Regions from separate parts of the Homo sapiens genome. Here regions 1 and 3 are each linked to region 2. Evidence: fine-mapped QTL for protein levels in blood plasma. Region 2 holds a variant in brackets. A gene starts in each other region. All regions are shown on their reverse strands.

Region 1 (8,289 bases), not on the chromosome of region 2:
TGAAGATAAACATAGCCCTTTTTCCCCATAATGCCACACCCCATTAATTATAAATTCTTTTGGGAAACCCAAGATTTGGGTTGGAGGGTAGACATCCCTGCACTTAAAATGTCCATGATGAGGACAAGTGCTGAGAGGTAACTTTAACATAGGCCATTTCAGCAATGTGCAGGAAGACCCTGAGCTGGCAGAGAGAGGAAAAGATCTGCCATGAGATAGAAGCTACCAAAATGTCTGTACAACGTCTAGGGCCACATTATCCTATTTCATTTCTCAGATATCAGTGGGGTAATCATGTCCTGCGTCTCCCACCCCTTTCACATCTCACACACACACACACACACCACACACACCCCTACCTTGATCCCACTGATAAAATCCCAGCTAATCCACTGTACTGGGCTGCATCCTGAGAATATCATGAAAATGTAGAGGCTCTTTCCCTAAGCCTAGGATTAGTTGTACCAAGTAGACATAAGGGGTGCCCTGTAGTCTTCTATGTTTTGGTTAGCTGCAGACAAACAGAAACTATGTTCTGAAAATCAATTATTAGTGAGAGAGAGAAGGAGAGGAAGTTGAAAGGGAAGATGGAGAGAGATATGGTTTGGCTGTGTCCCCACCCCAAATCTCATCTTGAAGTGTAGTTCCCATAATCCCCACATGTCATGGGAGGGACCAGGTGGAGATAATTGAATCATTGGGGTGGTTTCCCCATCCTGTTCTCATGATAGTGAGTTAGTTCTCAGAGATCTGATGGTTTTATAATGGGCTTCTCCTTTTGCTGGGCACTCATTCATGTGAAGAAGGACATGTTTGCTTCCCCTTCCGCCATGATTGTGAGTTTCCTGAAGCCTCCCCAGCCATGCTGAACTGTGAATCAATTAAACCTCTTTCCTTTATAAATTACCCAGTCTCGGGTATATCTTTATTAGCAGCGTGAGAACAGATATATATATACACACACACACACACACACACACATATATACACATATATATACATACATACATACACACACACACACACACACGTTTTAGAATTTTTGTGAGCAGTTTTAACAGATTATGGATTAGCAGCCCTATCATACTAAGGTGGAAATACCACATTGTGTGGCATTTGTAAGATTTTGAGGGCACTTAGAGACCATCATTGTTTCTTGTGATATTTATTAACATTTTCATGACAGAAATGCATTTTCTTCAAATAGCCTCATTTTGTATCTAAGGAATATTAGTTTTATTTAGCAGTTATGCTGGGTTCTTAAAGGAGATTCACTAGACCCTCACTAATTCTCTTAGAACTAAGTTGGGTAGATGCATCATGGAACAAGACAGGCAAAGAAGAGGTCTACAAGAAGTTTCCTGCGTTTGTAAAGAGAAGACTGTAAAGAATTTTAGGACTCTTGGGGATATTGAGGAATGCAAAAGTGAGAACAAAGATGGAAAAGGGTGGCATTTTATGAGGATATGAATAAGTAGTGAGACAAGTTCATGGAATCAGACCTGAATATGGTAACTACATTCATTTTGACAATGCTGAATGTTTTCCCCACTTGTAGAAAAACTATAGTAAACAAACTGCTGTGGAACTAGAAATATGTGGATAAAGTGAGACCCTTTGTTAAATGCCGGGCTGCCAAAATGCATATATAACAGATCGGCATAGTTTCCACCTGTTTCCTGCGCCTATCTTATTTTTTTTTCTCACTTTAGGTATACCCTCTCTTTAGAAAATTAGCTAAAACTGAATTATCAAAACAGATCAGAGTACTGTTCATATCACTAAACAGTTCTTCTCTTGTCTAAAAAGAACTGAAAGACTTTCTTTAAAATAATGTGTTTCTCGAATGCATCATGTAGATAACTAACTGCTTGACAACAGACTGGAGAAGTAGCAATGAGAAATTTAAAACCAAAGCTACTGCCCAATTGAATCAACACTGGAAAAAATTTCAAATGGAAAAACAATTTTTTTAAAAAAATCTATTCTAATTGACCCAAACTTCTTTTGAAATGTCGTAACATTTGCAGTTCTTTTTCTCACATTAGTTGTTTTGGGAGATGGAGAGAGAAGCATCTATTTAATCAATGCGTTCTAGACCTAACAATTGTGATGTCAATCAAACATTTTGTCCACCATTTCCATCATGAGTAATCTGAACTGTGAGGTTTTGCTGACATAATTAGTGTTACACTACAATGGCACTACTACATTACTGTTACTATATGGGGACGGTACTTTCATTTTAAGTAGGAAAGTGTTAATAATTTGGCTTAATGTTTCTTAACTAAAATTAGTTTTAAAAGAGGACTGAGTTGGCTTATACACATGTATGCGGTCCAGAGACCTACCTGTTAAAATGTCAATGCCATTACAATTTCACTTTTATGCCAGATATCATTCTTGAACTTCAGGCTCATTAACTCTCATACTATCCCCCAAAACCTTTCAACAATTTTGAGAGTGTATTTTATGTTAATATATAAACTAGTTCATAATTTTGTTCCAGACTAGAAATCAGTATTTAATAAATGGAAAAAATAAGACACTGAAAATCTTTTATTGAATAATGTAAATTCTCACAGAGGCCTCTGATCATACTTTTCAACTTGTGCCTATTTATTGAATAACCAACATCCTTACAGTTAATATTAAAATCTTTAAGTTGTGTGGGGTTTTTTGGAGGGGAGGGATGGGCAATTACCAGCAAACTCCGCCTCCCCCAAACCTCACCTAACCCGAAGCTCCCCGCCTCAGGCTCCCGGGGAGCCAAGGGGTGGGCTGAGGAACGCAGCCTACTTTTACCCACCTCCCTACCTAGTGCTGGGAAGTGACGGAAACGGAGACACCCGGCTCCTGGGGCTGGGCTCGGAGGACCCATCCTGCTTTCCCTCTAGCAGCCTTTCCGGAGCTCACCACCTTTCCTCCCCTCACACCGCCAAAGCCCTGCCTAGCCCTTCACCGCCGCCTGCACCCGCGCCCTCCTCCAGCCGACAGCCAATCACAGTCTTCCACAGCTCCGGGTTTACAGAAGTAACGCTCCTTGGGCCCTCTGGTCCCGCCCCCTCCAGAACTGCTTCCCGCCCTTCGGGCTCCTTGTCCAATCATGAGCGCCCGAGTGCTCTTTGATGCCCGTCCCCTCTACCCGCCCTGCCGAAGACCCGCCTTCTTCTCCTTAAGCCTGACGGAATCACCTGACTCGGAGGCGCTCCCTCAGAAGGAAGGCAAGAAGGGGCGTGTGGGTGAAGGGGAGGGGCGCCAGAAGGAAGGTGGGGATGCCGGGAGCGGGGCGAGCGGGCGGGGGTTGTCAGTCCGATCTCGCGAGAGAGGACGGAAGCCTGTGGGAGCCCGTGGCCTTTAAAGTGCCGTTCAGCCTTTTCCTCCAGGGGTGCTTTGTAAACACGGCTGTGCTCAGGGCTCGCGGGTGACCGAAAGGATCATGAACTAGTGACCTGGAAAGGTGAGTAACGATGGGCAGAGGTCAGCAGGGCTGGAGACTGTAGGGATACGGAGAAAGAAGGCGCTAACATGGCGACGTCGCTCAGCACAGTCCCCACCCCCCGTTTCCCATCACCTCGGGTGCTCCTGACGTGCTCCTTAGCCCTTGGGGCGATTGTGGCTGTGCTGCCACCTCGGCGGCCCGCGCGGTGTGGGCTTTGGGAACCTGACTGGCTGGGCCGGACCGTTAGGTAACCAGCGTTCGTTGTTCCGGCCCCTCCCTCTCGCGCGCTTTCCTAAGGCAGAGGAAAAAGGAATAACGGCTCCCTCTTAGACCCCTCCCTCCGAATTATCTTCACCCTACTTGGGTCAGTTCAGAGGTCCTCGGGGCGCGCGTCGAGTCAGCCGTGTGCGCAGGGAGACCTCTCCCACCCACAGTCCTTGGGTTGGGCGGGGAGAGGGCCCACTCTGGTCTCCCCACCCAGTATTCAAGCGATTGAGGACCGTGTATTGGTGATGGTGGCGGGGAGGAGGATCGGGAGGCGCGGCTGAAAATAGAATCAGGGTCCCTGGCTGCGGTGCAGCTTGAAGGAAAGAATGGTGTGGAGAACCTAGGAGCTGGAAGTCTCGGCCTTTTCCGTCCTTTCCGCCACCCTCACAATCCCGCTACCCCCAGCTTTTTCCCGGTGGGGCGGGGCTTAGGTGTGGGTGCAGACTGATTCTGGTATTTTCCCTTATTTTTTTTTTTTTAAATCTCTGGGTGGACAGCAGAGCGTATGTAAAGAAATAATTTGCTTTTCATCAATGCCCTAGGGACCAGGGCCGAAAGGGAGTGTGTGTACGTGTTTTCTATGTTCGCTCGTTTAACCGAACCTAGGAGGAAAAAGAGAGGAGGAGCTGGGAACTATTTTTGTGCCCCTAGGTAGTATAAAATTGGCTTTCTTTAATGGAGAGTCTTAAAACTGGTGAGGCCAAGAGCAAAACTACTGTGAATATCATGGAGTAAAAGAGATTACTCCTGATGGACCTTAGGCATCAGAAATTTTAGTGAAAGAAATGTTTCTCTTAAAATTCAACACCTATTTTAAATAGTGATGTAAAGCATTTCTTTACATGTACCTTCAGGTTTTCTAATGCTTTCCTGGCTATTATTTAACTGGTACTAAGGGATTGACTAATCCCTAAATTATAATGTGAAAGTTTAAATTTCTTAGAGGTTTTAAATTATGGAGACGGTCACAATGCATGCATTTAAGATATACATTTAAAATCAGAACAAAAACTGACTTTCTTTGAGCACACTTTTTGTCCTATTTGAAGAAACATGACCACTGGCGTTATCATTGTGAGTAACAGCCGTTCTGATCTTTAAATAGCCATATAGCTTTGGTCTCTTGAATCAAAATTATGAAGGTAAAGCTTTATTTATAAAAGCTTGTTAAAAAGTCAAACCTACAGGTTTAAGTGTCTTAAAGTACAAACACAGAAGCAGTTTTATCATGTATTAATTTTTTTTTCCTTACTTGAGGAATCCACCGTAAAAACTTTGTTTCAAAAATGTTAGGAACATCCTTGTAAAATACGTTTTAAATATACAGATTCCCCTCTGCAGATTAAGAAAGTTCATGGATCTTTAAGGCCATCAGTAGTTGCGTAATAGTTAAGAATCCTCGTCTTTGTAAAATAATTTCTAGGAATCTTCCAAATTTACCGTGATGTGTAAAAGAGTTTCTGAGAATCTTCCAAATTTACCATGATGTGTATGTTGCCTTCCTAAGACGTTTAATCTTGCTTTGAGAGAATGCTACTGCCATTAAGTTTTAAGAACTGATTTAAAATGTAATATCGTGGAAATTTAGAACTTAGTTGTTATGTATTTTAATTGTCAGGAAGGAGCTTTCAGGGACTTTTTTTTGTATGTGTAGTGTACATAATACCTTCTATAGCTCCGGGTGCATTTCCTGAAAATCCTTTTTAAAATATCTTATCCGAATGTTTATTTCGTATTTGGGGCACTGTATTTTTATTAGTTAAATATGTAACCCAGGAATTCCTGCACTTTTTTCTTTGGCGTTTTTTGTTTTTAAGCTAAGATAATAGTAGAGGCTGGGCGTGCGCGGTGGCTCATGCCTGTAATGCCAGCACTTCGTGAGGCCGAGTGGGGCGGATCATGAGGTGAGGAGATCGAGACCATCCTAGCTAACACGGTGAAACCCCGTCTCTACTAAAAATACCAAAAATTAGCTGGGTGTGTTGGCTCCTGTAGTCCCACCTACTCGAGAGGCTGAGGCGGAGAATCTGTTGAACCTGGGAGGCGGAGGTTGCAGTGAGCCGAGATGGCGCCACTGCACTCCAACCTGGGCGACACAGCGAGACTCCGTCTCAAATAAATAAATAGTAGAAATGGTTGTCAGCATTTTAACAAATAGTGGGGTTGGGGTGGTCTTTATTGGTATTCAGGATCTGAAAGCTCTATGACTATGGTAGAAAAATATGCCATACATCAAACATCTATCTGTAAGTAGCATTAACTCTTCAAAAAATAATGTACATTTTTTCTACCCAAATTTTTGTATTTTGGAAAACTTCGGTTTTAATGATACATACGTTCTTGTCTGGTAAATTGTTAGATCGTGTTAGATCAGGTAAACAATCTCACCAATGTGTGCTTTTTCTACTAATTTTGTCTAAAGGCTCTTCCTTCCAATATGAAATATACCTATAAGTAGGCATTTCTTTCTCTTTTTTATTCTTACTAAAATGTCATTGGAGAATATAAAGTAGTTGAAGTCTCCCTTATGAAAACCAGATTTTCATCAGAACCTCTCGTTAAAAATTCAGTGAATAGCAATAATTAATATTCAACTGATTTTTATAAAAGTCAATGCATATAGCACCTGTTGGGTTATTTTGTATAATTAAAATGTACCCTAAAAAAAATCCCACCTTAGCCAGGTGTGGTAGCTCACGCCTGTAATCCCAGCACTTTGGGAGGCTGAGGCAGGCGGATCAGCTGAGGTCAGGAGTTCAAGACCAGCCTGGCCAACATGGTGAAACCACGTTGGTAGGCGCCTGCAATCCCAGCTACTGGGGAGGCTGAGGCAGGAGAATCGCTAGCACCTAGGAGCAGGAGGCTGCAGTGAGAGCCGATCGTGCCACTGCACTCTAGCCTGGGCAACAGAATGAGACTGCATCTCAAAACAAAACAAAAACCAAAAAATTCACTTAGTATTGTTATAATCTGGAGTTTAATTTAGTATTTCTGTGTTTATCTCATACTCACACCTGTTCCTCAAGGCTAAGAACTTGTCTAAAATGCTGCATGTTCTCTTTATGTAAGTTTTAATGTTGAAGTAGTAGGATAGTATTCACCTATTTCTATTTGAAGGAAAACCCCAGAGAACATTTTATTTCCTTTGTTATGTTTCTCAAGGTTAAAAGGTTATATAGTAAGGTATAAGATAGTTTCATAGAAAATCAAGGAAATTTGTGGATCTTTAAGGCCATCAGTAATTGTATTTTATCTTATTTTATTTTTGAGACAGAGTCTCCCTCTGGCTTCCACGCTGGAGTGCAGTGGTGCAGTCTTGGCTCACTGCAATCTCCACCTCCCGGATTCAAGCGGTTCTCCTGTCTGAGCCTCCCGAATAACTAGGATTACAGGGGTGCACCACCATTCCCTGCTGATTTTTGTATTTTTAGTAGAGATGGGGTTTCACCATGTTGGCCAGGCTGATCTCGACTTCCTGGCCTCGAGTGATCCACTCGCCTTGGCCTCTCAAAGTGTTGGGATTACAGGCGTGAGCCACTACACTAGGCCTATTTTTACACATTATTTTATAATATAAATATATTTAATGTTACATATTATATAAATATAAATAAATATGTATTCATTATATGTGTCTTTTCAATTTGTTGAGACTTTTTGACAACCTTGAAACTGGTGTATTCATTTTCACTTTTAAGGCATTACAGGCATGAGCCACTGCACCCGGGCCTATTTTTACACATTGTGTTACAGGTGTATTTAATGTTACATATTATATAATTATAAATAAATATGTATTCATTATATATATCTTTTCAATTTATTCTTGTTGGCAACCTTGAAACTAGTGTATTCATTTTCACTTTTCTTTTTTTTTTTTTTGAGACGGAGTTGCTATGTCACCCAGGCTGGAGTGCAGTGCCGCTCTCAGCTCATTGTAACCTCTGCCTCCCAGGTTCAAGTGATTCTCCTGCCTCAGCCTCCTGAGTAGCTGGGATTACAGGTGCCCGCCACCACACCTGGCTAATTTTTGTATTTTTAATAGAAACGGGGTTTCACCATGTTGGCCAGGCTGGTCTCGAACCTGCCTCGGCCTCCCAAAGTGTTGGAATTACAGGCATGAGCCACCACCCAGCATCATTTTTCATTTTTTAAGTATGTTTATTGATTTTTTTTCCTTGGCATTTTGACATTGACAGTAAAGAAGAGATGTAAACAATGTTTTGGGGGCTTTGCCTATTCACCCATATTTGCATTCTGTATCTTAACAAAGATAGTGGTTCTCAGCCACTTTTTTGCCTTTCTACCCAAGGAATACAAAATACTTCCAACAGTAGTAGTGGCTTATTACCACAGAGATTCTCAACAAGACTGGTAGGGAAAGACAGGGAGAAATAATTGTAATTGGCAAAATACCATATGGACTTTGGTTATTTTTGTAATATATAGTATTTTTATCTATAATATTGACCATAAGTTTATAAATATATTCCCTAAATATTCTTTAGTTTGCTAGCAGAACCGAAACCTTTGTCATTCTAATTTTTTTAGCTTTGCTCCAATGTTATAGCTTTGGTTTT
Region 2 (8,289 bases):
AAATGCCACAGATGGGAAAATCAGAATAAGGAAAATTTTATGAACTGGCATGGCTGTAGTTTTTGTCAAGCAAGTAATTCATGTCTGCAAGAAAATACATACAACAATAAAACACATTCAAGTCCAGGGGGAGGCTGACCTCTGCCCTCTATATTACAAGTACAAGGTGGTATCACATCCAAATTATTTTTCAGACTCCAGGGTATAAAGCGCTTTTGGACGGTGAAGCTAACAGCTCTCCCCTCAGGTGTGGCTGAGGTATGTGGAGAATGCAGAGTTGTGTTCATGAAGAAGATTACATTATTGTGTCTGGAGACAGCTCCCCAGGGTGTGTCTCAGATGTCAGACATGCGTCTATAAGTCAAGCAAAGAGAACACATTGAGTCCAAAAATCAGCATATTCTTACAGGCACCCATTGCTCCATCACATGGGTGAGAAATTTTTGAGACAAGTGAAGTGTGAGTTCACAGTAAGTGATGCAGTTATCATATTTCCATGAACTTTCATTAACAAGGCAAGGACTTCTCTAGATCACTCATACACAAATATACAAAATGTATTTTTGCATTTGCGAGTGTCTAGAGAAAAAAGAATCTGTTGAGAAAACTTCTTCAGGTTACAGAGATCTGTTTAAGTTGGAGATCTCACAGGAGTGTGTCTTTGAGTGAATACTGGCCTATTAATTAAATAGGTCAAAATTCCCTCTGTTGGAGTAGCCTTCCGATTATGTAGATTTCTTTATTGCTTCCTGAGTTGTGAAACATAAACCCAAGCATTGACTTACTGGAATTTGACTGCTGTGTTGATAAAATTTCTGATATGGTTTCTTCCAATGATTTAAGAATAGCTTTCCCCTTTCTTTACTCCAGGAAATGAATTTTCACAAGGTCTCAGGACACCATATTTCAGGTGCTTTAGTTAAAGAGACTGACTTCTTGGGGGCAGGCCTCTTTCTTCTAACAATGAGCTCACTTCTTCTGCAAAGCATTCAGTCTGTGGCTCTATTGCCATGAATCATGAAGATTTTACACTCCAATGCACTAAAAATAATGCCTCTTCAATTAAATTTCCATTGGCATTGACATGAATTGGCCACTCTTGGATGTGTGTCCTATGTTATGAGCCCAACATGTCAGCGGACTGAGAATCCTCTGTTAGCTACTTCTGTGTGTAGCACTGAGCAGACTAACAATCCTCAGAGTCATCCATGAAGGGAGTCCTGAGGTTCCTGGGGTTCTTGGAGACATTCAGGTGAGTTGAGAGGAGAAACAGGATTGTGGGCTGCCAGCCATTTCAACAACAATGGGAGTCATTACCATCTAAGTGTAAAGTCTACATCATTCAAAATATCCTCCATGACAGGCTGATAAGAAGAAATCCAACCACACAATGGCTCCATGGCAGCTCTTTAGTATATTTGGGAGTGAGGCTTTTTTAGGGAAGAAATGTCCACTCCAGTGTGTCCCTGATGCTGCTCTCAGCTAATGTAAACAGTGAACTGGAACCAAGATTCTCTGAGATCAATGTGAGGATTAATGCTGCTCCAATGTGTTTAAACAAGCATGTGGCAATTTAGACGAGCCTGGCTGTGTGGTTTGTTATATGTAAATCTGAACTAAATAAACAGAAAGGGCATGTCTGAACTAGTGTGAGGGTGAGAGAGCTCATAGACCCCAAACTCGTTTTTATTTCCTCCTGGAACCTCCAGGTCCTTTGGTACCTCCAGGTACTTTGTCCATGCATCACAGGCCTGAGGGCCCTGGGCAGGAGGTCAGGAAGAGAGGATGACCAGACAGCTGGGGAAACCGGGATGAACAAAGCCAGTTTCCTTCCTGGTGAGGAGGGGCAGGTCGAAGCCTCGTGTCCCTGTAGGGATGAAGCACACTCACCTGCCCACTGCTACCTGCCAATCAGGTGACCTGCAGAGCAGCAGCTCCTGAGTCACTGATGGTGACTTCCTCCTCCTCCAAACCCTCTAGGATCTGTGCTTCTCAGAGTAGGAACCCCAGCAGGTCCCCAAGTTTTCAATGGATTCACCTAGCTAGTGTCTCTCCTCAGCCCCATCCCCAGGCTCCTGCCCTGGTGCTGTGTACAGTGTCACAACAGGAGTGACAGTAACAGCTGGTGCCTGCACTTTCCAGGCCAAGAAGTTTGAAAGAAGCAAGTCACAGGGCCAGCCGGGATATGGGGTAATCACACAAATTTCCTTCTTGGGGGAAGTGCTGGGAAACATCCTTGAGTCCTCCTCAGCTCACATGCGGCTGCTGCTGTTCATCCCAGTGTGGGGGACACATGAGCCCTCCCCATGCCCAGGATGGAGCTGTTTCAATCACAGCAGGATGGGAATGTGTCTTCTCTATGGGGGCTTTTGGAGCACAGCTCTCCTGTTCCTGAGATTTGAGATTTATAAAGACAAGTCCCACAGAGTGGACCTGCACAAATAAGACAGTACAGGATCCTCAGGAGAGACATCCCATAAGAGAAGGGACAGGCAGGTCCCATCACAGACGCTCATCCTCAGAAACCCTGACCAGCTACTCACCTTCACAGGTCCCCAGTTCCTGATCAGTGCCTGTGTCTGCTCCTGAGAAGAGATGAAAATTCAAGACAAATACTTCTCATGATCATAGGCTTAAAAATTCTCAACGTAGGAAATCAAATCCAGTAGTTTATCAAAAAGTTAACACACTGCAATCAAGTAGGCTTCATTCTGCAAATGCAAGGCTGCTTTAACTGCTTTCCACAGTGCTTGGACTAATTCACATTCCATCCAGCACTGTACAAGTGCTTTAACCTGTGCAAAGCAATAAATGTGATGCTCTACTAAACAGAATCAAAAGCAAAAACCATGTGAGTATTCCAGCAGATGCAGGAAAAAAGCTTTCAATAGAATCTAACAACGCTTCATGATAAAAATCCTCAAAATTATAGACATTGAAGGAGCACACCTCAATCTGATGAGCCGTCTATGACAAACCCATGGCCAACATCATACTGAATGGGCAAACACTGGAAGCATTTTCCTTAAGAACAGAAACAAGACAAGGATGCCCGCTCTCACCACTTCTATTCAGCCTAGTACTGGAAGTATTCACCAGATCAGGCAAGAGAAAGAAATAAAAGGCATCCAAATAAAAGAAAAAGAAGAATGCAAACCCTCTGTTTTCACTGATAATATGATTCTATATGTAGAAAATATTGAAGGCTCTGCCAAAAGTCTCCTAGTATTGATACATTCGTTTAGGAATGTTTCAGGATATAAAATCAATGTACGAAAATCACAGTAACCTTTCTAGTCACCAACAACGTTCTGGCTGAGAGTGGAATCAAGAACATGCTCTCCCAATAGCCATCAAGACAGTGGAATACCTAGGAATAGAGTTAAGCCAATGAGATGAAATATCTCTACTAGAAAAACAGCAAAACACATGTGAAAAAAATCAGAGATAAAACAAATAAATGGAAAAATAAACATTCCATGCTTATGAATTTAAACAATAAATAATATATGAAAAAGTTTTAAAATTTGTGATTAATTCTACGTAGCAATGCCATTTTTTTCAACATTTACAGAATATTGTTGCTGGTAATAGCAGTTTAGCATTTGAGTAATGGAAACACCTTACAGAATCACTTTATAACAGTTGCTTCCTGTAGTGGGT[GT/T]GCTTCAGTTACCTGATGAAAACATCGGCATGTCACAGGTCGAAAACATAAAATATGTCTATCAACTGAGAAGGTTGTAGGCTTTTGTCAAGTAATTACTTCAAGTCATTCAGAAAAACAGCAGACAGTAAACGAAACTTGTTCAAATTCCATGGAGAGTCAAAGCTGAAGAAAATCCAACTAAAAGTGTCCAAAGGCCCCCAAGGCTCAGTTCCTCGGCAAGTCCCACCTTCACAGGTTTTCCAGAATTTTGTTTTTAACTGATTTACACTGAGTGAAGTAGATTACCAGGAGTTTTCCATTATTTTAACATAAAATCGGGGGCTAAGTGTTGTTATTTTATAAAGACATCTTTGAATCTCTCAGGAAATTTACCTCCTGAGGGTTCAGATAAGATCCTACTCTAGGTTAAGATTACATGTTTGGCGCAATGAACTGGTACAAATCTTACTTTAGCTTTCATGTTATCTATTTTTCCGCACTGACTTCCACCTTTTTATTAGTCAAGTATATGGGATGGAAGAGTGCTTCTAAGAGGTCCTTAACTTGCCCATTTCAATGGATTTTCAAGAAGACATGAGAAACCACTTCGTTTGCAAAGCATCCCAAAGCCATGTCCTGCTCCAGAAACGTGATCTCATTTCCTGGTCGTTTCTTAACTGACACGCTCTAATCAGTGCATCTGGGCCAATTTGAAATGAGGTGAAGAAATGTGTCCTAAAGTAAAGCTAACATTGTAATAGGAATTCGTGTTTAAAAACATTTAGTTTTATTATTGGGCAGGATCCATCAACATATAACAGTTGAAGTTTCTCAACAGGAGTTTAATAAATATAAGGAATGTACAGAAGTGTTTCCTAATTTAGATAAAATGTAGTGATTACCTAGGCTGTGAGTGAAATCTTGGTAATCTGCTATGTCCATGCCCATCACTCTGTGCACCTCAAACTAATTTTGACCTCAGCAGAAACGAGGTTAATTTTCAAATTAGTAATTTTTTTCCAATTTAATTTATTTAGATGATTATGAATGACTATTTTAGCAGAAAGAGAATCAAGGAAACTTGAACTAAATAACCAGAATTTAAAATGACAAACAATTCAACAAGATGCCAGGATGTGAGTGGCTCCAGGCCCAATTAGTTCAAAACTTTGTGTGCCCAGGTTCTGTATTTTCCTAAAATTGCACATCTCCAGTCCAGCTTCATGCCACAGTCGACTCCCACCGTGTAAGACATGGCGACAGCATTCCCAAAGGTCGTGTGCAATTCTGAAAATGGAATAAGCAAGGTGAGGAGATGATAGTTTATATTCTCCTCTGAGGAGGAAGAATTGCCTCAACAGACCACTTCTCCTGCATCTGTGACTAGAACTATGTCACAGGCACACATGGAGCAAAATCCCTCAAGGGGATAATACGGTAACATTAATCAGGGTGATCATTTTTTTTTTTTTTTTTTTTTTTTTGAGACGGAGTCTCGCTCTGTCGTCCAGGCTGGAGTGCAGTGGCGGGATCTCGGCTCACTGCAAGCTCCGCCTCCCGGGTTCACGCCATTCTCCTGCCTCAGCCTCCCAAGTAGCTGGGACTACAGGCTCCCGCCACTACGCCCGGCTAATTTTTTGTATTTTTAGTAGAGACGGGGTTTCGCCGTTTTAGCCGGGATGGTCTCGATCTCCTGACCTCGTGATCCGCCCGCCTCGGCCTCCCAAAGTGCTGGGATTACAGGCGTGAGCCACCGCGCCCGGCCGATCATTTTTAATACTATAAAATTCATAGATGACACTGCATTCCAGCCTGAGAGACAGAGCAAGACCCTGTCTCTAAGAAAAATAGAACAAATCAATAGATACTGATACCAACATTTTAGATAATGAAATTTTCATAACCTAATTTTAAATACGCTCACATCATTACATAAATCTTCCCGGAAATATTCCTAGTCATGTTGAGTTTCATCAACTTTTCCAGTGTTCAAATCTAGAAATCCAATAGACTCTTGAGGATAAATCAAAATGAGGGCAGTGAAACTGGTATCTGTTCAGCACCTGTTAACTCAGGAGGACTCAATACACCCTGGCACACTGCTGCTTCTCCGAATGGCTCACAAGGATTCCAGCTCTCTCTCCATCCTCCTCAAACATCTGACCGCACTTGCCCTAAGTTCACTCTCTGCTCTTAGTCTGTGCTCTGAAGTCTTCCCAGAGGTGAAAGTGAGCTGTCAGATGGAACTTCCCTCTCACCTCAGCGTGGAATTTACTACTACATTTAACTATCACTCTTTCCATAATGGTTGATTTCTTGGTCTGTTCATTACAGACCAAAGGCATCTGATTTGAATCTTTATTTCTTTGCATTTGTCTCCATGACAATTTTGGGAGGTTTTACCACCAGCACTATGACACGATGTAGTAACATGACACATTTGTGGTTAACAACACCTACAAATTCAGAAGCTCTTCGGTTCTCTTCCCAGCAAATATAGCTGCTTCCTTTCTGTGTATGAACACATCCTGGAAACCCGTACACACCCACATAGATATATACATGGCTATGACATTTTCTTCTCTGTAAGTGAAAATTAACCTCAATTTCATACGAAGTTCATCATTTCCCTGAAGGTGAAGGTAGGTCGTTTTTCATCTATTCTAACAAAAGTCTCAGACACCAGCTGGTAAGTGAGGAGCTACCCTGCTTCTGGATGTTGGATCTGTCTCTTCCCCTTTGCTTTACCACAGAAGATTGGCCACTTGTCCAGGTCCCAAGAAGAGAGTCCAGGTTTGTCCTGATAATATGACTCATCCAACTTCTGATAACTCTACTGTTACACACATTCATGGAGGTAGCCTATTAATTACATAATTCACTAAACAAATACCAAATACCCACATTGCAATACCCCATACCCAAGGGTATGTTCATGCATTCAATGAAGGAAAAGGCTTTTCAGAGACAGATAGATCAGGCTAGATTGGTCAATATATGGGTGAAAACACTGGACTTGAATGTATCTGTTTTCCCCCATGTCACATGTGAGACCTGTCAGACAGGACCAGGGTTCCTTGTGCACTCAGAGGTGAGGGCTCACAGAATTCCTCTCTGGTTTCCAGGAAAGGTAACTGCAGTAATCTTGGTAATGAGAATATCCTCCAGTGCTGACCTATTATAGAGTTTACATATGAAATTTTCACTGCAATTCACAATCTACTCTTTCACACAGAAGTGTACAGAGGTCAGGACACATCCTCAGGGTCACACATTGAGAATGATGAAGATATGTCCCACGAGTTTTTCCTAAGGTCTCAGAAAGAATTCCAGGACTCAAAAGGTCTCAGAGGGCAGCTCCCAGTGCCTTAGTTAAAATGGTGGCTCAGGCCTGTAATCCCAGCATTTTGGGAGGCTAAGGCAAGTGGATCACCTGAGGTCGGGACATTGAGACTAGCTTGGCCAACATGGTGAAACCTTATCTCTACTAAAAATATAAAAATTAGACGGGGGTGGTTGTGCGTGCCTGTACTCCCAGCTACTCGGGAGGCTGAGGCAGGAGAATCACTTGAACCCAGGAGGCGGAGGTTGCGGTGAGCCGAGATCGGGACACTGCACTCTAGCCTGGGCAAAGGAGCAAAAGTTCATCTAAAAAATTTATTTTAATTTAAAAATTTTAAAAAAATGGCCCACTCCCTAGAACAGAGAGATTCCCTCTAAACATGATGGAGGTCCCGAACTATACATTAAGTGAATCCTGGTGTGTCTGAACTCACATGATTATTACGTTAAGCTGCTGTTCCAATCTACTTCCTCACCTGGGAAAAGAGGAGCCAGGGCATGGCTAGTTGAGGCCCCAGGAAGAGAACTGAGTTCTCAAAGGGCAAAGCAAGCATCCTCATCCCAGGGCGAGCCTAAAAGACTGGGGCCTCCCTCATCCCTTTTCACCTCTTTATACAAAGGCACCACCTACATGCAAATCCTCACTTAGGCACCCACAGGAAACCACCACACATTTCCTTAAATTCAGGGTCCAGCTCACATGGGAAATACTTTCTGAGAGTCATGGACCTCCTGCACAAGAACATGAAACACCTGTGGTTCTTCCTCCTCCTGGTGGCAGCTCCCAGATGTGAGTGTCTCAAGGCTGCAGACATGGGGGTATGGGAGGTGCCTCTGATCCCAGGGCTCACTGTGGGTCTCTCTGTTCACAGGGGTCCTGTCTCAGGTGCAGCTGCAGGAGTCGGGCCCAGGACTGGTGAAGCCTTCGGGGACCCTGTCCCTCACCTGCGCTGTCTCTGGTGGCTCCATCAGCAGTAGTAACTGGTGGAGTTGGGTCCGCCAGCCCCCAGGGAAGGGGCTGGAGTGGATTGGGGAAATCTATCATAGTGGGAGCACCAACTACAACCCGTCCCTCAAGAGTCGAGTCACCATATCAGTAGACAAGTCCAAGAACCAGTTCTCCCTGAAGCTGAGCTCTGTGACCGCCGCGGACACGGCCGTGTATTACTGTGCGAGAGACACAGTGAGGGGAGGTGAGTGTGAGCCCAGACACAAACCTCCCTGCAGGGAGGCGGAGGGGACCGGCGCAGGTGCTGCTCAGAGCCAGCAGGGGGCGCGCGGGGCCCACAGAGCAAGAGGCC
Region 3 (6,998 bases), not on the chromosome of region 2:
GTATTTTTAGTAGAGACAGGTTTTCACCATGTTGGCTAGGCTGATTTTGAACTCATGACCCCAAGTGATCTGCCCGCCTCGGCCTCCCAAAGTGCTGGAATTACAGGTGTGAGCTACCACTCCCAGCCAATGATTACATTTATAAGGTAAAATAACTTGTGCCAATCTGTACAAGTGAATTCAGATTTAAAATTTTAATTGTAAAAAGATATCCAGGTGATATTTCTCCCTGAATAATTTAGTTTCCTTTTCTATTTCTTGATATAAAAGTACTCAGCATTGAAGTAATTGCTATCTTCACATTTCTTCCTATTTGAGCTGTCTAAATAGTAGTCCTACATATTTTCCCACCCAACACAAAAAACCCAGAAAAGAATTATTTTATACTGGATTTTTTTGTTGTAGCAGGAAGCCTAGAGGTGCAATTGTAACATGCATGTTCTTTTGGCAAACTCTATCTTAAAGGAAATTTCTTGAATTGCTATCATGACTTGGCAATATTTTTATTTAATGAGACATATATTTTTAAGATCTTAAGTATATTGAAAATTAATGTGTTCTCTGTTTTGGCCACACACACACAAAATGCCATCACAGATCCTTTTAGTCTGGGGATGTTTTTCAGAGGCCTTGCTCAAGGTCTACACTGATCTGTCTATCTACACCATTCTGTTTCACCCCTCTAGAGACTACTCTCATGAATGTTTGTGAGAGAGGTTGGGAGGACAATCTTGGCAGTTTTAAATTCTTGATATGAAGATAAATGACTCATGAGGCATAAACTGATTCCATAAACTGATTCCTCAACAGCATGTTCAGACAAACTCTTTCCATTTTCACCTGCTAAAAAGTAACTGGAGTTGCAAGTAATAACACTGAATGCATGAAGAAAATAATATCCAAAGCAGAAATCATCCCCACTTAATTCGCATGGGATTGCTCTTATTACTATTCTGTCATCTGTGAGAAGAACCAATACTTTTTCCATTCATTTAAAGCAGCCTGTTTCCTAAATATAATTGATAGACTTAAAATTGCTTCCTGATAAAGTAACAACCCGCAATTTTGCACAAGGTTTTAGTTCCCATTACAGTCTAGTTTCATGCAATTGCGGTTGCCACATGGAGTTTCATATTCCACCTTCTTAATTGGCACACCCAATACTTTAAAAGCAATTCTAGCAGCTTCAGGCACTCAAAATTTCCATTTTCATCATTTCATCCAAGGCTTTGATAAGGAAGAATCATCAAAATGAGTGTTAAAATTCATCACTTGGCAAAGTACTACTCCATCACTTATAAAAACATGTTTTTATTATTTATTTATTTTATTTATTTATTTATTTATTTATATTATTTATTATTATTATTTATTTATTATTATTATTATTATTATTCCATTCTTTTCAATTAGCAAATAAAAACTTCAAAAGAAAGCAAAAGAAAGACTAAAGATATTGTCCAGTCTAATATTAAAGGTGTCTCTGACAACTTCAAAATAAACGTTATAAAAACTTTACTGTACTGTTTTTTTTTTACTTCTAAAAAATACTTGAATAATGTCCATTTAAAAAAAAAGCCAGAGAAAGCCCAGGAAAAGGTATATTAATTACATAACACAAGATAACAAAAATAAGTTGTTTAAGTCACTTATTTGAAAGAGAGAGCATCCCTAGAGGAGACAGCTTTGTGATTTGTATCTTCTAAGTTCCTACATTCTAGCCTGAAGTATTTGGATAGACTAAAAGCATAATCTAGGAAAGAAAAGCAACCAATAGAGAATTTTCTTCAAGAAATCAATTAGAGAAAAACGGAATCTGAATTCAGCCAAATTCACCACCAGCTCTTAGCAAAGATTAAAGACAGGAGCATCAAGGCAGGATATAAGAAATTGCTCTAAAGGAAACAGATTTTATCACATACAGCTGGTTAAGGGCTCAAAGCCAACTGCACGTATTAACTGAACTTCTGAATAATTATAATACAACTAACAAATACCAAATATATATTTTTTTATATATTGGCCAAATTCTATCCTTAAGCCGTTCTGACTCTTCAATACCTACACTCTGCATGAAAACCTGCCTAAGCCAATGAGTTCATGAAAGGTTTTCTTTTTTCTATCTTTTTGTTTGTAGTGTATAAAGCTTGCAATAGATTTTAAAGAGCCTGTTCTATCAACTTATAGATTTCAACTAACTCAATACAGATTTCAACTAACCAAAGATAAGCTCTAAAACTAAGTTTATTTCAGTACTTAGCATGAGCTCATTGACGGTGAAATTGGCCATTTATACATAGGCAAATCTATAAGGAAATTAACAATATTTCACATTTCTTCTAATTAATGGTCTTTTTGTGAACATGCACTGCCTACTAATGTCAGCTTATCTATGATTTGAATGTATAGCTTTCTAAAGCGTAGCAATTTTTTTGCATATTTATGTGTCCTAAGAGAGTCCCCCCGCTTCATTTTTCCATCTCTCAGCCTCATGAAAGGCTACCTCTATCTAGAATTTGTGACAGAGGAAGCTGAGTTTTGTGGTTGATTGTATCTTCCTGGTTACAATCTAGAACTATCAGAGTTTTGCAATGATAGTAACAGCAATGACTAACCCTTGCTTGGAATAATAGCCTTTAATCATTATCCTCAGTTTCTATCTGGGAAAACTGAGTGCTATTTTCAAGCAGTCTTCCTGCTAGTAGTGGCAAGAATGGAGACATAAATCCATCCCTTTTGATTCCAAAGTGTTATATATTTTGGCTGTGCATGGTGGCTCACACCTGCAATCCCAGCAATTTAGGAGGCCAAGGTGGGCAGATTACTTGAGGCCAGGAGTTCAAGACCAGCCTGGCCAGCATGGCGAAACCCCGTCTCTACCAAAAGTACAAAAATCAGCCAGGCATGGTGGTGTGCACCTGTAGTCCCATCTACTCAGAAGGCTGAGGCAGGAGAATCACTTGAACCCAGGAAGAGGCGGAGGCTGCAGTGAGCCGAGATTGTACCACTACACTCCATCCTGGGCGACATAACAAGACTCTGTCGGGAAGAAAGAAAGAAAAAGAAAAGAAAAGAAAAAAGAAAAGAAAGAGAAGGGAGGGAGGGAATTAGTGACCAAAAAGAAAATGACATGATCAGTGTTCTTTTAATCACTCACACCTGAGAATCAAATTCATTAACAGTCAACTTGCGCAGACCGTAGCAGGTTTCACCCCAGCCTTAGGGAGTTTATTTTTAAATGCACGGCCTTGTGCATAGTTTTTCCTCGAATATGTATTTCACAAGTCCTTCCCACACCTTCCCTGGTGAGAGAAAGCAATTAAGACTACACAATGGCATGACTTACAGAAAGCAATTTATGAAAGGTAGCCTCACTAATGTTTTGCTTCCAGGCTTTTCGATAGGGTGTTCTTCTTGCCTGGAATGCTTGTTCCTCCTCCACATTCACTTCCCTTTGCCTAACTAATTGCTACTTCTAAGTGACTCATCAGCATTGATCTCATCACGTTCTTCAGAAACCCTTCATTAGTTCCTCAGCACTGGATTCGGTGACCTTCCATGCTCTCCCAAAGCATCCTGACTTCACCCCTACACCAGCCCCACCTTTCTGTATTATCACTTTCCATTGGCTTGTTTATATTCCCCAGGAGCAGGCCATGAGGCCCGTGCTAACATACAAATAATAATATTCATTATGTATGTACTTCCAATCCCTAGCAAAATGCCTGGAATTTAGGATGTTAATAAGTATTATTGAATGAATATCATGTATCATTGCTAATATTTTAAAAAACATATCTACACTAATTTAATGAACATTTTCTACCCACAACTATAGGATATAAAATACAAATTGAAGTATACTGGTTCTTGATTATCTGGCGATCTGACCTCAAGAAAAACATTTAGCTTCTCCAGAGGGTCTTCGTTTATAAAATAAGAATGTTGAAGTAATTATCATCTAAGATCCATTTACAGCTCTGAAGTGCCAATCTTAAATATTACTTCAAGTAGATGAAGATGAAGAAAATTAGCATAATGAAGGAAGGCATTATATAAATTGGATTGTTCTGAGCTTCCTGATGAAATTCTGTCCAATTTTAAAGGAAAAGGAAATAGTTGACTTCAAAAAACTGTTTATAGTTTATCATTGAAAAATAATAGGTCTGCTGGTTTACCTCTGATTTGAAATGTCGTAAATTAATAGGTCTAGAGAGAGCTAACGTCATATTCAGAAATCAACCTTTGCAGACCTTCTGGTTGAAAAAGTATTTAATAAGCATGAAACTCTGGCTGGTTCCTTAATAATATTATTATTAACTATTTTGTCAACATCTGTTAAATGTTGGCTATGTGCTGGATGTGGTTGAGCCTGGAGCTAGGGTGTTACTGTCACTTTTGGGGAAGAGGCCATTTCAGAATTATGAAACCAACATTTTACCACATTTGAGTCATTTGCAATGTGCATTCTCTTACAGCTACCAAAATACTCCTGTGGAAAGAGGGCAACATTGCTTTCTCAAAGTTTTTACAATCTTTTAGATATAACCAAGGCAAGAAAAATTCCATCCTTGTTAATTAGCTAGCAGTGAACATAAGAAATCAGAACATTTAATAAATATTTAAAATGAACGAACAGAAAAATTCTTGAAGGAACATGTTTAAGAAAAAAATAGCCAGATACATGATTTGTAATCTCACTTTTACAAATATATCCAACACTAGTAAATACTCTTCTTTAGTTTTGCTTTGTGCTTTTCTAAGGAGTTTTATGGCCATTAGCTCATGCAACAATCAAGTGGAATAGCTGTTGGAGGGCCTCACTGACATTCCCCTAGGATAATGTATCTGACACTACCCAGAAAGTATTTCCCTTCTTTTTAGGTTTTCCAGCCAGCACTTGAAAAGACTGTATATGACACAGAGCCTACAAGAAAAGGAATGTGGCCACACCCTCTTTAAATGAAAAAAGTAATAAGCGGACCTTCTTATTTTAAATAGCATAAGCAAATATAACATATATTTTTAAATGTTTATTACAAAGAGCATGATTAGCACTTTGAGGTCTGAATCTATCTTGTTTTCCTTACAAAAGAAGAAAATAAATTATGAAAGTCCTACTATTTTGAAACAGTTCCCTGCAGCCCACTCCTATCACTTTTGTTCTTGCCCCCAAAAAGCAGCCCCCATCACGATTTCTCTGTAAAACACACAGCTCTTGGGAAGAAATATTTCAAGGGGAAGGAAAGGAAAAACACATTCTTTTAAGGCTACCAGAGGGAAAGCACATTCTTCCCTTCTTTCTCATGGTAACTTACCAAGAGTACAATGAGCCAGTATTAAGCAAACTTATCTTATTTTTACTTGTATTTGTTAACTAAGTAGAACAAAAATATTGTAATTTGTGATTCCTAAAATATAAATATCCAATGTAATTCTACAGAAAGATTTATGAATGACTTATCATGTTAAATGCAACTAACCATAAATCCTGTAGAAGCAGTAACATTTAACATAGTGATGAGAAAAGTTTTCAAAACAACCAAAACTAACTAAAAGGAAAACCAAGACTTACCTTTATCTCTACCTTCTTGCAAAGAACTAAAGAGAAATTCTTCTCTGAAGATTTCACACTGGCAGTGGAGACTTGGGCTTCTGATTTTATAGGATTTTAAAGGAAGCCACACCTAGCAACCAGAAGTTAGTAATTGGCTGCCTTCTGTTTGAAGTACATGGCTCAGCTATGTCCAAAAACAAAGTGAAACAAGTCTTGCAAAACTACTCACTAAACCAATTCAACTGGCATTACAAAGGAAAAGAAATGGAAGGGCTGATTTTTCCTCCCTCTTTATTTTGCACTTTTATTTCCAGATGGGATATTTATTTTGCACTTTTATTTTCAGAGTATACATCTGCCCCAATCCTAATACCAGTGATTGGCACACTTTTGTAGTTAAATAGGTTGTAGACTAAAAAGTATGTTACCTTCAAAACTAAACAAACCAACAAACAAAATATTACATTTGAATTCCACCTCCATCACTTATTATTCTGTGACTTTAGGGACATACTTAATTTTTCTGAACCTGTTTTTACTTTTGTTTTGTTGTCTTTTTCCCCCGCTTTTTGTGGAGAATGGGGTCTCGTTATATTGCCCAGGCAGGTCTCAAACTCCTGGGCTCAGGCTATCCTCCTGCCTCTGTCTCCCTAAGAGTTGGAATCACAGGCGTGAGCCACCATGCCTAGCTGTTTTTACTTTTGTATATAGGAGCATTATCTAAGTTGTCTACCCACTAGAATTCTTGTGACAATGGAGAAATAACATATATTTGTAAATTTTAACATTACACAGTGCCGAATAATTTTCTATTTATATTTTTCTTGCCTTAAAAAATAAACGACTTTTGTTCCTAGATATAGCTTGTTGTTATAAATAAGAAATATAGAAGTAATAAAGTTCCAGATTGGCTCAAAATTTTGAACAAAGGTAATGCCAAAAATTTGATCATTATGACATTCAATAAAAGCATTGACATCAGAAGGCCTATCTACATTAATTCTTTTAAATAGAGTCAGTTACATAGAACTATATATATAAACTGTAATATAGATCAGTTATATATACATTTTGATACACATCTTTGACATTGTAGACTAGTTGAACACCAAAACAAGGAACTAGACCTATAAAATGAAAGGATTAATGGAGCAGCAACTATTACAGAACACATTCCATAAGAAATTTCCCACCCAATGGAGGAAAATTGGTTCTGGTAACTTCCATAGTGGTTCATTTTCATTCTTCTTTAAACCCTACAAAGTATTATATGATGTTTCCATTAAAGTGCACAGGTGTAAAATCTCACAGCATTATGGCTCAATTTATGCTGCATTTAGTGGTTTGTTCTTTTTCCTCTTTTCCTCATAGATATTTCACATAAAAAACATGAAGTTTAGGAAGTTAATGAAAATACTTTCTAAAGATTGGCAGTATTTTA

Direction of the effects. Positions count from the first base shown, and alleles are read on the strand shown. Strength reflects both the effect of a copy and how common the allele is.
As copies of T replace GT in region 2, the plasma level of the protein whose gene starts at base 3,307 in region 1 goes up (strong association).
For the plasma level of the protein whose gene starts at base 5,635 in region 3, allele T in region 2 goes with a lower level than allele GT (strong association).

What was found. PIP is the chance, under the fine-mapping model, that this variant and not a neighbour inherited with it causes the effect. The UK Biobank Pharma Proteomics Project read protein levels with antibody pairs (Olink). The fine-mapping took linkage between variants from a reference panel, not from the people measured, so its PIPs are less certain.
Region 1: it holds the start of ATF2, and the variant in region 2 is fine-mapped to the plasma level of the ATF2 protein (UK Biobank, PIP above 0.99).
Region 3: ANXA1 starts here. The variant in region 2 is fine-mapped to the plasma level of the ANXA1 protein (UK Biobank, PIP above 0.99).

Annotation. Positions count from the first base shown.
Region 1 is chr2:175,163,221-175,171,509 of GRCh38, reverse strand. ATF2 (activating transcription factor 2) reads left to right here and starts at 3,307. Exons shown (of 14, transcript NM_001880.4): 1 at 3,307-3,460. It overlaps MIR933 (microRNA 933), which reads left to right and starts at 3,801; the gene lies at 3,801-3,877. RefSeq lists a silencer at 3,289-3,358.
Region 2 is chr14:106,011,800-106,020,088 of GRCh38, reverse strand. It overlaps IGH and IGHV4-4. Among named protein-coding and RNA genes, the nearest start is that of FAM30A, 98 kb to the right of the region's middle. The variant GT/T (reference allele first, on the strand shown) is at 3,664.
Region 3 is chr9:73,150,502-73,157,499 of GRCh38, reverse strand. ANXA1 (annexin A1) reads right to left here and starts at 5,635. Exons shown (of 13, transcript NM_000700.3): 1 at 5,576-5,635. RefSeq lists a silencer at 3,353-3,647.